Linked DNA regions of Homo sapiens: region 2 is linked to region 1. Evidence: fine-mapped expression QTL. Tissue or cell type: fetal neocortex. Region 1 holds a variant in brackets; the other region holds the start of a gene. All regions are shown on one strand. Distances are between the middles of the regions.

What was found. PIP is the estimated chance that this variant, and not a neighbour inherited with it, causes the effect.
Region 2: it holds the start of GAREM2, and the variant in region 1 is fine-mapped to the expression of GAREM2 in fetal neocortex (Walker 2019, PIP 0.95).

Annotation. Positions count from the first base shown.
Region 1 is chr2:25,948,409-25,956,668 of GRCh38, reverse strand. KIF3C (kinesin family member 3C) reads left to right here. Exons shown (of 8, transcript NM_002254.8): 2 at 225-326; 3 at 1,006-1,128; 4 at 2,284-2,402; 5 at 4,764-4,880. Among named protein-coding and RNA genes, the nearest start is that of KIF3C, 30 kb to the left of the region's middle. The variant G/A (reference allele first, on the strand shown) is at 3,161.
Region 2 is chr2:26,169,449-26,177,448 of GRCh38, reverse strand. It overlaps GAREM2 (GRB2 associated regulator of MAPK1 subtype 2), which reads right to left and starts at 4,361. Exons shown (of 6, transcript NM_001168241.2): 1 at 4,117-4,361; 2 at 965-1,105. The coding sequence starts at 4,228. RefSeq lists an enhancer at 1,361-1,899.

The DNA of each region.
Region 1 (8,260 bases):
CTCTGTGCCTCCCTAGTGTTCCTGCTGACAATAAGAGCCTTGTGCTGGGACCTGAGACACTAGAGGGGAAAACTCCATTCTCCCTGAAAGCCACAAGGCCCCATCTGGGACACATCTGGTGTCCACTCCCAGAAGGACCACAGAGCAGGGAAGCAAAATCTCTCCAGCTAGCAATGTTGTGGACCCTTTGCAAAGCCCACCTCCCAACCCCTCTGTGTCCCCAGGCCATGGAGAGCAAGCTCCTCATCGGGGGCAGGAACATCATGGATCACACCAACGAACAGCAGAAGATGTTGGAACTGAAGAGGCAGGAGATTGCCGAGCAGGTAGGGCCTCCAGGTGCCAGGTCCCCTTGGAGAGTGTGGCCTGCAGCTCATGTCTGGGAGGTGCAGGGCCGTAAACCATGGTGGACTCTGGATCTCTGGAATTACAGTGCTGAGAATCTCAGACATGCCACCCTGGGTCCCACAGGTCTACTAGCCCAGGGTCTTCCCTTTGGCAGGGGCACTGCTAGCTGGTGGGCGAGAGGACGTGATAGCTCTCCATAACATCAGCCTCCACAAGCCACCTGGTACTAATTCCTGGGCCTTCCACAAGGTGGTGTGAGTTCTTTGCCAACTGTATGACTGTTTCCCTAAATCATCAAGAGCCACAGTTTGTTGGTCTTACCAATCAACCATTATACTACTTGGGGAGAGGGTGAGGCAGCTTGGAAGGCAGTGTGATGTGCCTCCATCTGTGTGACTAACGCCTCTGGAGTAGGCCAGCTCTTAGGGGCTGGGGTCTCCATCCACATGGGGCAGAGCCTGGCAAAGGCATGGCCCTGGGAACTGAGAGGAGGGTTCCCAGGGGCTCTGCAGGATTGGGTGGGAGCAGTGGATGTGGGCCATGGGCCATGGTGAAGCCAGGTCCCGAGACAGGCAGAGTGAGCCAGTCCCCTGAGCTTTCCTGGCCCTCCCGAGTATGCACTGCTCCTTTGAGCCACACTGCCCGTCCTTGGCCTAGAAACGTCGTGAGCGGGAGATGCAGCAGGAGATGATGCTCCGGGACGAGGAGACTATGGAGCTCCGGGGCACCTACACATCCCTGCAGCAGGAGGTGGAGGTCAAAACCAAGAAACTCAAGAAGGTGAGACGCTGCAGCAGGACCGGTTAAGGTGTGCTGGAGGCCCAGCAGTCTCTGCCCAAGGGATGTGTGCTTCAGGGACTCCTCCCCATTTGGCTGGAACTGCTGAACCCCTGAGTGACATGGCTTGGCCTCGGGGGTGAGCAACAGGGGGAGGCAGGAGGCGGGGGCTGGGGGTGGAGTAGAGCCTTTTCTCCTGGGCCAGGGTGGGCTATGACAGGCTGCAAACTCTGTCACTTGCAGTATCCAGCGTTACCATCTTCATGGTCCTGGGTGATTACCCCGTTCAGTGTCACCAGTGAGTCACAGTTGGGATAGCTGGGCCTGGAGCAGGGCCAGGGGAATACAGAGAGGCTGAGGAGGAGACTGGAACCCCGGGAAGCTCAGGTGGGGAGTGTAAGGCCCTCAAGGACATGTCAAGGGATGAGAATAGCCGCTCACCAGAACCCTGCAAAGCCCGTGGCAAGGGAAAGACATGTACATGTGAGGGGGGTCTAGGGCAGGAAGCAGCAAAGCTCTAGCTTGGATTCTGGGAAAAACCTGGAGGCCCTTCGGGGTGGGTGATGTGGCTGCCCAGGGGCAGGCCTGGCAGAGGCACTGCCACTGTGGCAGTTACCACGGACCCAGCCCTCAGTGGCTTTGGAGAGGAGCAGGATGGCCATGCTACCTCCACACCCCACTTTTGAGAGCCCCTGAAGAGACTGGAGTGGGAGGGGTCACCTTCCAAACTCGTTCAGGCTTCCTGCTTCCTGAGCTGGGTCTCCAAATAAGCCCCGGGTCCTAGTTCCGGCTCTTCTATTGGCTGGTTGTGTGACCTTGAGCAAGTCTGTGCCTGGCTTCCTCATCTATGAAAGGAGGGTATTGGACCAAAAGGTCCCTGGGGTCCCCTCCCGTTTGAACATTCCACGATGCTGATAGCAGCTGAGAAAGAGCAGACAATGGTCACAGGCCTCAGTGAAGGAGGGCGGGGCACCACTTTAAATAGCCCAGCCCAATTCGTGGTGGGTTGGGCACAGCGGGGAGTTCAGAAAAGGACCCGCAGCCTCATCCTGGGCTGAGTCGGTAGACTCTGAGCCTGCAGCCCTGCGGCCCAGGCTGGGTGACTGGGGCCTCGTTGCCACACCAAGCAGCCTCTGAGTGGCACCTGTCCCCACCCAGCTCTACGCCAAGCTGCAGGCGGTGAAGGCGGAGATCCAGGACCAGCATGATGAGTATATCCGCGTGCGGCAGGACCTGGAGGAGGCGCAGAACGAGCAGACCCGCGAACTCAAGCTCAAGTAGGGCCCGCAGCTCTTTTCATCCCGGGTCCCCACAGCCAGCCATCATTACTCAGGCCTCTCCTCCCCTAAGGCCTCATCCTGACTGTCTCCTCTCCCATGAGTCCTTTAGGAATAAAATGCGTCTGAGGGCTGAGGGATGGGCCCACGTGCTGGAGTTTCTTCTACCTCCTCTGCCTGTATTTGATGAACCCCTCAAAATGGACGCTAGGTGCTGGCCAAAAGTAACTCCGAAGGCCCTGAGGCTACCATCTTTGCATAAGAATCAGTGATTTTAAATTTTTTAAAAATTATTTTTAGGGCCGGGCGCAGTGGCTCATGCCTGTAATCCCAGCACTTTGGGAGCCGAGGCAGGTGGATCACCTGAGGTCAGGAGTTTGAGACCAGCCTGATCAACATGGTGAAACCCCATCTCTACTAAAAATACAAAAATTAGCCGGGCATGGTGGCGCGCACTTGTAATCCCAGCTACTCAGGAGGCTGAGGCAGAATTGCTTGAACCTGGGAGGTGGAGGTGGCAGTGAGCCGAGATCATGCCACTGCAATCCAGCCTGGGCGACAGAGCGAGACAACGTCTCAAAAAAAAAAAAAAAACAAAAACAAAAAAGGCCGGGCGCAGTGGCTCATGCCTGTAATCCCAGCACTTTGGGAGGCTGAGGCAGGTGGATCACGAGGTCAGGAGATCGAGACTATCCTGGCTAACACGGAGAAACTCCGCCTCTACTAAAAATATAAAAAATTAGCCGAGAGTGGTGGCG[G/A]GCGCCTGTAGTCCCAGCTACTTGGGAGGCTGAGGCAGGAGAATGGTGTGAACCTGGGAGGCAGAGCTTGCAGTGAGCTGAGATGGAGCCACTGCACTCCAGCCTGGGCGACAGAGCAAGACTCTGTCTCAAAAAAAAAAATTATTTTTAAATTTGTTTTAAAAATTATTTTAAAAAATGTGTGTATATAGTAGTTGCATATATTAATATTGATGGGATACATTAGATTTTTTTTTTTTGGAGATGGAATATTGCTCTATCATCCACCCTGGAGTGCAGTGGTGCAGTCTTGGCTCACTGCAGCCTCCACCTCCCAAGTTCAAGCGGTCCTCCTGCCTCAGCCTCCTGAGTAGCTGGGACTACAGGCGCCCACCACCACACCTGACTAATGTTTGCATTTTTAGTAGAGATGGAGTTTCGCCATGTTGGCCAGGGTGGTCTCAAACTCCTGACCTCAGGTGATCCGTCCTCCTCGGCCTCCCAAAGGGCTGGGATTACAGGCATGAGCCACCTCGCCTGGCCACATGAGATGTTTTGATACAGGTGTGCAATGTGAACTAAGCACATCATGGAGAATGGGGTATCCATCCCCTCAAACATTTATCCTTCAAGTTACAATAATCCAGTTACACTCTTTAAGTTATTTTAAAATATACAATTTGCTGGCTTATACCTGTAATCCCAGCACTTTGGGAGGCTGAGGCAGGTGGATCACCTGAGGTCGGGAGTTTGAGACCAGCCTGGCCAACGTGGTGAAACCCCATCTCTACTAAAAATACAAAAATTAGCCAGGCATGGTGGCATGTGCCTGTAATCCCAGCTACTCAGGAGGCTGAGGCAGGAGAATCACTTGAACCCAGGAGGTGGAGGTTGCAGTGAGCTGAGATCGTGCCATTGCACTCCAGCCTGAGCAACAAGTGCAAAACTGTCTCAAAAAAAAAAAAATATATATATATATACACACACACACACACACACACACATATATATACAATTAAGTTATTGACTATAGTCACCCTATTGTGCTATCAAATAAAAGTATTTATTCATTTTTCTAATTTTGTGTACCTGTTAGAAGCAGTGATTTTTCAAGCTGCAGTATTTCTGTAGGGATCCTTTCCCCTTAACTTCTTGATTTTCCCCACCTCCACATTGCCTCTGCCTCTTTTTTTAAAATAAATAAATAATTAATTAACTTATTTTTTTTTGAGACGGAGTCTCACTCTGTCGCCCAGGCTGGAGTGCAGTGGTGTGATCTAAGCTTACTGCAAGCTCTGCCTCCCAGGTTCATGCCATTCTCCTGCCTCAGCCTCCTGAGTAGCTTGGGACTACAGGCACCCACCACCACGCCCAGCTAATTTTTTTTTGTATTTTTAGTAGAGACGGAAATGGTGTTTCACTGTGTTAGCCAGGATGGTCTTGATCTCCTGACCTCGTGATCCGCCCGCCTTGGTCTCCCAAAGTGCTGGGATTACAGGCGTGAGCCACCGTGCCCAGCCCCCTCTGCCTCTTGGCTTGTTGCTTCTAATCCTTCAACCCTCACATGCACCACGTGGTCTCTCGCTCACCCATTTTCCCATCACTCCTTCATTCCTGCTCCCAGGTACCTAATCATCGAGAACTTCATCCCGCCGGAGGAGAAGAACAAGATCATGAACCGGCTTTTCCTGGACTGTGAGGAGGAGCAGTGGAAGTTCCAGCCACTGGTGCCAGCCGGCGTGTGAGTCTCTAACCCAGCTGTCTGGGCTGGGGGACTTGTGGGTCCACTCCAGGTCGGGGCTGGTGAGGGGCCTGAGGCCTTGCCTGCAGGGAGACAGATGTTTTGTGGATTGGGGAAAAGATGGGGAGGATGCCGATGGGGGATGAATTTCTCAGGATCTAATTGTAGGGGTCTCTATGATGGAAGGGTGTTCTGGGAAAAAAAGTGTCTCATTGGCCTGGGATGCAGAAAATACCTTGTGAGGGATCTCGGGAGGGAGGAAGAGCATCTCAGCCTCTTGACAATCCTAGCGAATGCTAACATCTGGCCAGGTCTGGTGAATATTCATTTGTCAGATGCCCGAAATAGCAACCACAGTTAATATTTGCCAAGCGCTACTGTGTGCCGGATGCTGTGCAAGACTCAGGAGACAGAAGATAAATTAGACATGGTCCGAGCTCACAGTCCAGTGGGAAATAAGTAATCAGATCATGATGTGATAGAGCTGTGATCCAATCTCAGTGCGCTCGCTCATCCGGGTGATTTCAGCATTTCCACCTGTTTCCATGTCCTAGTCCTTGGGTGCAGCTGCGGCCATTGGCTGGGTGTGTGGCTCCCTCTGCTGGTGGCCATGAAGAACATCCCAACAGAGTGAGGCCTTGCCCGGCTGAACCATGGGCCCTTAATTGCAAATATATAGAGAGAGGTGCTTAGGAGGCTGGACACCAATGCACCTTCCTGGAGATTATTTGCTCTCTCTAGAATATTAATGTTAAAATAGGGCAAGAGTCTCCCTAAATCTGGGATGGGAAGCTAGCAAGAGGTCTACAGCTTCTCACTGAAGCATCAGATGCCTACTTGGTTATTTTTTTTTTCCTTTCTTCCTTTTCTTTTCTTCTTCTTTTTTTTTTTTTTAACAACTATAGCTTAGATGCCTATTTGATCTTTCTTAAAGGCTGATTTTACTTAAGGTGATACCACATAAGTTTGTAAGTGGCAAGCACGTGAATAGAGGACTTTTCAATGGTATTACTTTGCACCTACAATCCACCTTTCCAATCTAGGTAGAGATTCTCAATAGTACATCAGCTGTCATAGAGGTTTTCCACCCTGGCTGGAGCTAGAATACCTGCAGAGAGTCTGATTTAAAGGGTCCCAGGTCTTAGGTTTTGTGATTCTGCATTTGAAGCCAGGCTAGAAAACCACTGCTCCAATGACATTTGCTGGAGTTGGATGCTGGCGAGGCTTCACTCTGAAGGGTTATCTTATGCTTAGAAAAGTTCTTTCTAGCTGGGCGTGGTGGCTCAAGTCTGTAATCTCAGCACTTTGGGAGGCTGAGGCAGGTGGATGGCCTGAGGTCAGGAATTTGAGACCAGCCTGACCAACATAGTGAAACCCCATCTCTACTAAAAATACAAAAAAAAATTAGCTGGGCGTGGTGGCAGGCGCCTGTAATCCTAGCTACTAGGGAGGCTGAGGCAGGAGAATCTCTTGAACTCGGGAGGTGGAGGTTGCAGTGAGCCAAGATCACTCCATTGCGCTCCAGCCTGGGCAACAAGAGCAAGACTCCGTCTCAAAAAAAAAAAAGAAAAGAAAAGAAAAGGTCTTTCTGCTGGGCATGGTGGCTCATGCCTGTAATCCTGTAATCCCAGCATTTTGGGAGGCCGAGGCGGGTGGATCACTTGGCGTCAGGAGTTTGAGACCAGCCTGGCCAACGTGGTGAAACCCCGTCTCTACTAAAAATACAAAAAATTAGCCGGGTGTGGTGGCATGCACCTGCAGTCTCAGCTCCTGGGGAAGCTGAGGCAAGAGAATCACTTGAACCCAGGAGGCAGAGGTTGCAGTGAAACTTGCTCTTTCGCCCAGGCTGGAGTGCAGTGGTGTGATCTTGGCTCACTGCAACCTCCGCTTCCTGGGTTCAAACGATTCTCGAGCCTCAGCCTCCCCAGTAGCTGGGATTGCAGGTGCATGCTACCACGCCTGGCTAATTTTTTGTATTTTTAGTAGAGACGGGGTTTCACCATGTTGGCCAGGCTGGTCTTGAACTCCTGAGCTCAAGTGATCCACCTGCCTCAGCCTCCCAAAATGCTGGAATTATAGGCATGAGCCACTGCACCAGTCCTTAGAAAAGTTCTTGAGTTTAAAGTTTGCAGGTGAAGGAATTTCTTTACATTGGATGTAGTAGTGCCACCAATGTGCTCAACTAGTTGTGGGATGGGAGAGGCTTTGAGAAGGTGTGCATTAACTTTTGTTGTTGTTGTTGTTTGAGACAGGGTCTCACTCTGTCACCCTGGCTGGAGTGCAGTGGTGTAATCACAGCTCACTGCAACCTCAGCCTCCCCAGGCTCATGTGGTCCTCCTCCCAGCTAATTTTTTTTTCTTTTTTTTTGGTATTTTTTGTAGAGACAGGGTTTTGCCATGTTACCCAGGCTGATCTCGAGCTCCTGGGCTGAAGCGATCTGCCTGCCTTGTCCTCTCAAAGTTCTAGGATTACAGGCGTGAGCCACTGCGCCTGGCCACGTCAGCTTTTTATTTTGAAAACAAGAATTGCAAGAATAGTATAAAGAATTCTCGTATACCCTTCACCAGATTATTAACATTTTGCCATATCTTGCTTTAACTTTCCCCCAACCACTTGAGATTAAGTTGCAGACATTTTGACCTTTTACCTGTACTTCCGAAAAATGAGAACATTCGTGTTCCACAGTGCAATGATCAAACTCAGGAAATTTTGTATTGTCACAATATTATTATATAGGCAATATTAAAATTTGCCAATGTCCTTTATGATGATTTCCCTCCCTCCCCACCTGCAGTCATGCATTTCATTTAATTGTCATGACTCTTTGGTCTCCTTTAATGTGGAACTGAGAAGGGATTTTGACTTGAGTTTAGCAGTTTCTTGCTTCAGAGGAATTTATTCATTTCTCAAAACACTCTGCAATTTTGACTTGACTGCCTCAAGCACATGATCCAGACTCAAAGTGTGGCAGGTGCTTTACCTGAAGTTCGAATGAGCTTTCTGCATAATGATTATGAATTTCCTTCCCTCCCTCCCTCCCTCCCTTCATTCCTTCCCTTTCTTCTTTCTTTCCCTTCCTTCCTTCCTTCTTTCCTTCCTTTCTTTCTTTCTCTCTCTCTTTCTCTCTTTCTCTTTCTCTCTTTCTCTTTCTCTCTCTCTTTCTCTCTTTCTCTTTCTCTTTCTTTCTTTCTCTTTCTCCCTTTCTTTATTTTCTTCCTTACTTCCTTGCTTGCTTTCTTGCTTTCTTTTTTCTTGAGTCTCACTCTGTCACCCAGGCTGGAGTATATAACTCACTGCAGCTTCGGGCTCCTGGGCTCAAGTGATCCTCCTGCCTCAGCCTTCTGAGTAGCTGGGGCCACAGGCATGCACCACCACACCA
Region 2 (8,000 bases), 220 kb before region 1:
AAATGGAGTTGACAAGACTTTCTCATCAGGTTGCCATGAGGATGAAATGGCAAAAATGTTCGGCCCAGCATATGGCATGCAGCACATGCTTAACACATGGCAGATGTGGGATCCGGGGCTCACACGGGGACGTCTCTGGGATGGGGCCACCAGACTCCCATCCCTCCCACACAGGGGACAGCAACCACACGCTCCTGGTGTAGTGCAGCAGACACCAGCCCTCAGTTGAGATACCTGGATCTGGCCAGGCTCTTCCTTTCCTAGATGTGTGACACGGGGCAAGTCACCTCCTCCCCCAAGCCTTCCGTTTCATCATCTGTAAAAGGAAGGGGCTGTACTCTGTTTTGGTAACAGAATCCTTTCTTCAAACAAAATCTTATTATATGTCAACGTCACGTATAAAACTAATAAAGGTAGTCCATTAGCATAATCTTTAGAAGTCTAAAATTTTTAATATTCACTTATAAAGTCAACCAATGGAAACAATAGGTTTAACGCAAAAATTGGGAAAAACAGGATCAGCGCGGAGAGGTGCAGCCATGTAACCAGCTTGGGCATTCGCTGGTTTCTGCGGTATTTGGTTGCGCGGTACAGAAAAGGTCCTGGCAGGACATGTTCTCTTGGAGGGTCTGCACAAAGATGGCTAAGCGTGGCAGCCGAAGGTATACCCTGAAGGCCTCTGATTAGGGTTAAGCTCTGATGTGTAGTAATTTAAGAGTGTGGGTATTTTTTAATCATTAGTTTCAAATCTACTTTAAAATAAAATGTGAATCAAAAAACCTGTGAGCCACCTCTCCAGAAACCCAGAGTGCCACAGAACAGAATGAAAACTGCTGGGCTCTGACTCCAACCCTAACCCTAATCACCGCCTCGCTAGTCCCAGCGTTCCCCCTACCCCTGGCCCCAGTCCCTCCTGCCTACACCCCCCTACAGGCTTTATGACATCTGTCCTGGCTGGACACACCTGGGTACTGCAGGGGGATGTCGATCTTGGGCCCGATGACATAGTGGCCCTCCTCCAGGGTATGAGCTGTCACCGTTGTCCACTGCCGGCAGGAGTGGATGAGCAGGATGTCTCGCTCACTGACGCCCTCGGCGTACTCCCCTGGGAAGGGGGAGGAGGACAGAGGATGAGGGGAAGGAAGACAGGACATTAGAAGGGGCAGAAAGAACAGATAGTGACGTCCTCACCAAGACCGCCCCCCTGAGGGACAGCTCCACACAATCCCTGTCCAGGTCAGCAAAGCTCAAGGGACAGGCGGGCTGCCAGCTGGGGCCTGGGGCTGTGGGGCTGGCTGTGAGCCTCTCAGGGCTGTGACTCCCGACGGGGCCCCTCGTTCATCAGTGGCTGGAATGCCTGCTGTCCCTGGCTCTGAGCTGGAGCAGGGGGAGCTCCCCATGGATGAGCCCAGACCAGCCCCTGCCCTCCAGGAGCCCTTAGGCCCCTGGGGAGGTGGGCAGAGATGTACCAGAGACTAGGCAAGTTTGAGGCACTGACTGGAGTATGTCTGGGGACCCGGAGGGCAGCAGTAGGCTCCAGCTGGGGGTGTGGTGGCGAAGGGAGACTTTATTGAGCAGGAGATGCTGGAGCTGTGCTTCCCAGTCAGGGCCTAGGCCCTGCAAGAAGGGCCCTACTGGGGCAGTGGAGAGGGCCCGGACGGGACTGTCCCTTATAAGGTCCCAGCTGTGAGAGCTCCCCCAGAGCCACGGGTCGCTCAGGTCAGGAGAATGACAGGGCTTAGAGCAGCTGATTACTGCCTCTCCCAAGGGCAGCCCTTCCTTTCCACCCACTGCCTTGTTCAGGGGACCTCGAAGGAGAGGGGGGGAGTCCCCAGAAACCCCCAACCCCATCTCAGAGAAGCCACCCACTGCCTTGTCAAGGGGACCTCGAAGGAGAGGGGGGAGTCCCCAGAAACCCCCAACCCCATCTCAGAGAAGCAGCTCCTTGACACCCCCTCCCCACGCCCCCTCATCCTCCCAGTTACAGGGGTGACGGCTGAGGGTTGGAGGGGTTGAGAGAGCAGGTTTAGAAGGCAGGAGTGGGAGGCCCAGCCCTGGGGCCTGGGGGAAGCTGCTCTGGGGCAGAGGTGTTGGGAGTTGGGAGGGGTCTGGGCCTGGAGGCGCCAACCCCAGCAACGGTTTCCAGGGGAGCAGGAGGGGCAGCCCAGCTTCCAGGAGGCAGAAGGGGCTGTGTCCGGGCTGCAGCTGGTGGGGAGGGTGGGGGTAGGGAGTACCTCCTTCCTTTCTCCTTCAGGCACAACTTACAAAATTTCTGCCAATCAAATGGGAAATGGTTTACTCTGATGGCTGGGGGCTCCATAAAATGTGTACATGTGGGGTAGGCGTGTGTGTGTATGTGTGTGTGTGTGTGTGGCAGGGTGGCGGGCGGTTCAAGACGCACAGGAAGGGCCTGGCCCCCACTATGTGTGTGTTGGGGGTGTTGTCTAAGCTTTCCCCTGTACCTCCTCACCTCCGGGGGCCCAAGAAGCTCTCCTCCAACTCTGCTCCCTCCTCTGAGAGCTGTCCTGGGTCCTAGCCCCATCTTCACAGCCACATGGGCACACAGCAGTAATCATGGCTCATGACCACCAACAGCTGAACCACAATAGCCCACAGTGACAGATGCTTGTCACCCAAACAACATAACTCAGTCTCCGGCCAAGGGGCCCCTCCCAAATGCACAGGCACACAGGGACCTACCCTTCAAGCCATACAATTCTGACCAGACATTCACACCCTGATGGTGACCCAGCCATAGCCACACACTGTCACACACAACAGACAGCTGGGCCATCACACCAGTTGTTCATTCACTCACCCATTCATTCAATCCATAATCTTTATTGGGCAAGGATGCCTGGTCTCAAGGAGCCCACAGCCAGGTCTAAAGACAATAAACTGACTGACCATTATAATGGGGTGCACAGTAGGAGACAAGCCAGAGTTGGCATGAGGTGGCCGGGGAGCCCAAAGGAGGCCCTACGCAGACCGAGGAGCTCAGAAAAGCTGCCCAGAAAGGGGAGATGCCAAAAAGGATGTGTGGGAAGTGGCCAGAAGACCCCAGGGCAGCGACCTCCATTCACAGGCAGACACAGTACCACACTCTGACCACTCGGCCGCGAGCCAGAGAACTAGACGCTGGCCTGCCCGACGGCGGGGCGCCGATGCTCCCCCATGAGCCTGCTCCCGGGACAGCTGACGCCCACTGTGCCCACTCCTGGCCGCCACGGAGGAGGGGCTGCCGGGCCCCACGGGGAGACGAGGAGCCTGCGGCCGCGGGCCCCATTAGCATTCATGGAAGCGAGTGTGCCAACGCGGGCCAAACCCCTATTCTTCTCACACACAAAACCCCCGGCCTGGCTGCCAGCCCCGGCTACCGCCCATCCCCCAACCAAGCAGCACCCCCCTCCCCCCAAACGGTCCCCTCGCTCCATGCAGCCTCCGGGCGTACCCTCTCGGGCCCCCATGCGTGGTTCCATCAGCCGAGCGGCTGGGGGCCCCAGGTCCTATTAAGAAGTGGGACAAGATTCGGGGGAGGGCCGGGAGTTTGGGGGTCACGCCGGGCAGCAGACCCGGCTCCCGCCGGCCTCTCCCGAAGGTGGCCTGCCCGCCCCAGGACCGAGGCTGCTCCTAGGGAAGAGAAAGGAGGTGCAAGAAGGGTCCCCAGAGGGGCGGAGCAGGACTAGGGGTGGCGGTAAGGGGAAGACAGAGTCCGGGTCCCAGGGATGAGGGAAGACAGAGGTGAGAGGCCAGGGACAAAGGGACCAAGGGGGCGCGGCCGGGGCGGGGGGCCCAGGGGCAGCGGGGGAAAGGGGGGCAACCGACGGGGCGGGAGCAGGGGCTCGGCCCCTTTCCGGACTCCAGCTGGGCGGGAAAACTCTGTCCCGGGCCCTGTCCCCGGTGTCTGTGCCTGTGCTTGTCCGCGGGGCCCAGGAGGCGGACCTGGCGGGTGGGCCCCGCGTCTCCCGGGAGGCGCGCCAGGAACCGCTCGGGGCCCACGCCGGGGAGCTGGGAGGGTGCGGGTGCCGCACCCTCCTCACGATCCCTCTGGCCCCTGGCTGGAGAGCCCACCATTTCCCCGCGGACCCCGGTCCCCATCTCCAGCGACCCCGGTACCTGGCCCAAGGCAGGCGAGCGTGGGCAGGCGGCAGCGGCTGACGATGAGGTCGAGCGGGAAGGCGCCCATGCTCCAGCGCAGGCCGGCCAGCCCGGCCGCCAGCTTCTCCATGGCATGGGCGCCCCGGGGCCGCCGTCCCGGGGCCCCGACGGTCAGTCCCGCGCGGCCCAGGCTCTCGCGCCCGCCGCCACCTCCCGGGGCCGCCGCGGCGCTCGCCGCCTGGCAGCCCCGCCGGGCCGCGGGCGTCACGTGGCCGGCCTCCCCGCAGGGCGCCGACCCCGGCCCCGCCCCCGGGCCCCGCCCCCTCCTCCCGGACCCCGGCCCCCTCCTCCCGGACCCCCGCCCCCTGCTCTGTCCGCCCCGACCCGGACTCGCCGCCGGACCCACCCCCGGACCTCCGCCCCCAGCCCTGTCCGCCCTGCCCCGCCCCGGCCCCCTCTCCTCGGACCCCGTCCCCGCGCCCCCTTCTGGGACCCCGGGTCCCCAGCCCCGCGCTCCGTCCGCCCGCCCCTGCCCCCGCTCCCCGGCCCCCACCCGCCGCTGCCGCCAAGCCCCGCCTCCCCTCCCGCCAGCTTCCCCGCGCCCAGGTGACGGCGGGTGATGGAGGACCCCAGGGCGGGCGCCTGGAGGGACAACGAAGTCCCGAGCGGCATCTGCGGAGTCGGCGCGGGGTCGGCCTCCTCCTTCTGGCTGGGTGTGTCCGGGCCCCGCCGCTCCCCCTCGTGCTGGCCTCCCGGAGGCCGCGCCCACCCGCGCCCTGTCCTGCTCCGCCGCCCAAAGCTCGGGTTCTGAATTCTGCTCTTCCAGGACCTTCATCACCTCCGGCTCCGTGGAGCTGGGCGAGGCAGCCTCCTTAACCCCATTTTACTGATGAGCAAACTGAGGGGCAGAGGTCAGGTGGCAGCCAGGACTTCAACCTAGGTTGGACTTCAACCCAGATTTGACTCCAACCCTACTGCCCAAGAGCACCCTACAGCGCCCCACCATAGAGCACCTTCCACGTTCCCAGCGCCCCCTTAGCCGATAGCCCTGTGTCATGTAAACCGGCGCTCCAACCCTTCCACAGCACGCGGTGTGGACTGCGTCCATTCTGCAGATGAGGAGGCCGAGGTTCGAGGGCGTAACCGGTGCTGCGGTCTCCTCTCGGATCATTACAAGAACCGCCTTCCTCCCCCACCGCCACCATCCCTTCTCTCTTTTCCTTCTCTTTTTTTGAGACTGGGTCTCACTCTATCACCCAGCCTGGAGTGCAGTGGCGCGATCTCGGCTCACTGCAACCCCCACCTCCCGGGCTCAAGCGATCCTCCCACCTCAGCCTGCGGAGTAGCTGGGATGACAGGCACCTGCCACCACTCCTGGCTAATTTTTTTGTATTTTTAGTAGAGACGGCGTTTCACCATGTTGGCCAGGCTGGTCTTGAACTCCTGACCTCAAGCGATCCTCCCGACTCGGCCTCCCAAAGTGCTGGACTTACAGGCGTAAGCCACCGCGCCCAGCCTTCGTTCCCTTCTTTTAATTTGCGTTTCCTTTTCTGCTGTCCTCACCTCTTCCTTCCAAGCCCCCTGGACTCCAGCTCGGGGCCTCCCTTTGGGACCCCCTTCCCAGAAGCTTAGATGGCCTCGGCCTCGGCCTCGCCCTCTCTGTGTCTGCGGCGCCCTCTGCAGGTAATTGGGGGATGATGCGGGCCTGGCTGATCTCGCGGAGCCAGCGGGCCTTAGTCCCTAGGCTGCTCCCTCACGGGAGTGTAGTGGCACGATCTCGGCTCACTGCAACCTCCGCCCCGCAGGTTCAAGCAATTCTCCTGCCTCAGCTTCCTGAGTAGCTGGAATTACATATGTAGCTGGGATTACAGACAAGCACCACCATGCCCGGCTAATTTTTCACCTGGCTAATTTTTGTATTTTTAGTAGAGACAGGGTTTCGCCATGTTGGCCAGGCTGGTCTCGAACTCCGAACTCAAGTGATCCACCCGCCTCGATCCATCAGTCCTCAGCCTCGGTACCCCCGGAAGAACCCCACCAAATACAAACAAAACCCTCTCTTCTGAGGTGACTGACACCTGGCATCTTATGGCTCGAACCCCATGAGAAATGGCAGCCGACAAGATGAACACCACTTCTCAGCGAGAAGAGACGTTTTAGATCAGTGGTTCAATCCTCAACTGCTGCAGAGGAAAAAACTGAGACTCCAAGAGCAGAAATGCTTTGCTCTAAGGTCACACGGCAAGAAAGAGGCAGCGCTGCGACCAGAAGGCAGGACCCCCACCTACCAACTTGACCGAGGCCCTTCCCCAGCCTGGCCCAAACCCAGCCCGCTCACCCTGGCCAGGGAGGAGCTGCTCACCCCGGTGACTCAGGCAGCCCAGATGGACTCCGCTCTCCTGAGTCTGTAGGGGTGGGGTGGGTTCTTTCCCAGGGAAGTGGGAAGGTGAAGCCTGGCAGGAGAAGAAAAGAAAATACAGTGAAAATATAGGAGTCTTAAGAAGGGAATGGGCCAGGCGCGGTGGCTCACACCTGTAATCTCAACAGTTTGGCAGGCCAAGGCAGGTGGATCACTTGAGGTCAGGAGTTCGAGACCAGCCTGGCCAACATGGTGAAACCCTGTCTCTACTAAAAATACAAAAATTATCCAGGCAAAAAATTAGCCGGGCATGGTGGTGCTTGTCTGCCACTCCAGGTACATCTGTAATCCCAGCTACTCAGGAAGCTGAGGCAGGAGAATTGCTTGAACCTGGGAGGCGGAGGTTGCAGTGAGCCGAGATCGTGCCACTACACTCCAGCCTGGGTGACAGAGCGAAACTCCATCTCAAAAAAAAAAAAAAAGAAAAGAAGGGAATGGAAGGTCTGAGACAGGAGGGCGAAAAGGCCGGAAGAAGCAAGTGAATGAGAAGGGTGCTGCCTTAGATTCACTTTTCTTCCCCTACCCTGTAGGGTCTCTCTTTAGGGTGACCGTGTGTCATCCTAACTGGGAGACTTTTAAGAGGGAAGCCGGTACTAACCACCTCCCCACCCAGCTAGGACAACAGGTGCAGGTAGCCTGGGCTCCAGACAGCAGGTATAAACTGGCATTGAGCCACGTGGTCACCTTCTCCCTGCGCCCTGGACAGAGACGCCACATCTACGGTGGCTTCTCTTACTCAGCATGGCCGGCTCTCCTCAGCTCCCGACCTCAACTTCCAGCTCTACCCCTTCGCCCCCAAAAGGCGTTCACAGCCACTTCCATTTCCACAATCACACTTGAACCGGGTCCCCTTTTATTTTCTATCCCAGCTGAGGACATCTCCTTTACCCTGGTCTCCCAACCTGGAAATCTTCTCCCTAACCTTTATACCAAACTAGTCACCAAGTGCTGGCAATTCCTCTTCCACCAGGTGTCATGGAGCCCCAGCCTCCTCTTCCCAGGAGCTCCAGTCCCAGCCAGGCTTTCGTTCACAGTTTGGATCTTCTCTCCCCCAGGCAACCTGCCTATTTCACACCCAAAACCTATAACCCTGGATTTCGGCTGAGTTAGGGGCAACACCGCTGTGAGACACCAGGCAGATTCACCTAACTAAATGGACCCACCTCCTCACTGTTGCAGAATATTCCAGAGCCTTTCCAGGGCTTCTTAACTGTTGTCAAGTCTCCAGGGACCTGACACAAGTGTCCAGACACATACATCACTTGATTTGCTGAGGCTCAGGAGTCCTGCAGGAAGGAACTCAGCTTCTCTTGGAGGCAGAAATGTTTAGATCTTTCCTTGGACTGAGATTGCAGGAAGGAGAGCCAAGAGGGCACCAAGAGGGAGGAAGATGCTGGGCAGAGAGGCCAGGCTGTGTGGCTTGGTGTGGCCGTGGGAGAATCTGGGGCCTAGGTGCTGTGTGTGGCTGGGCCTGTGCTTCCCG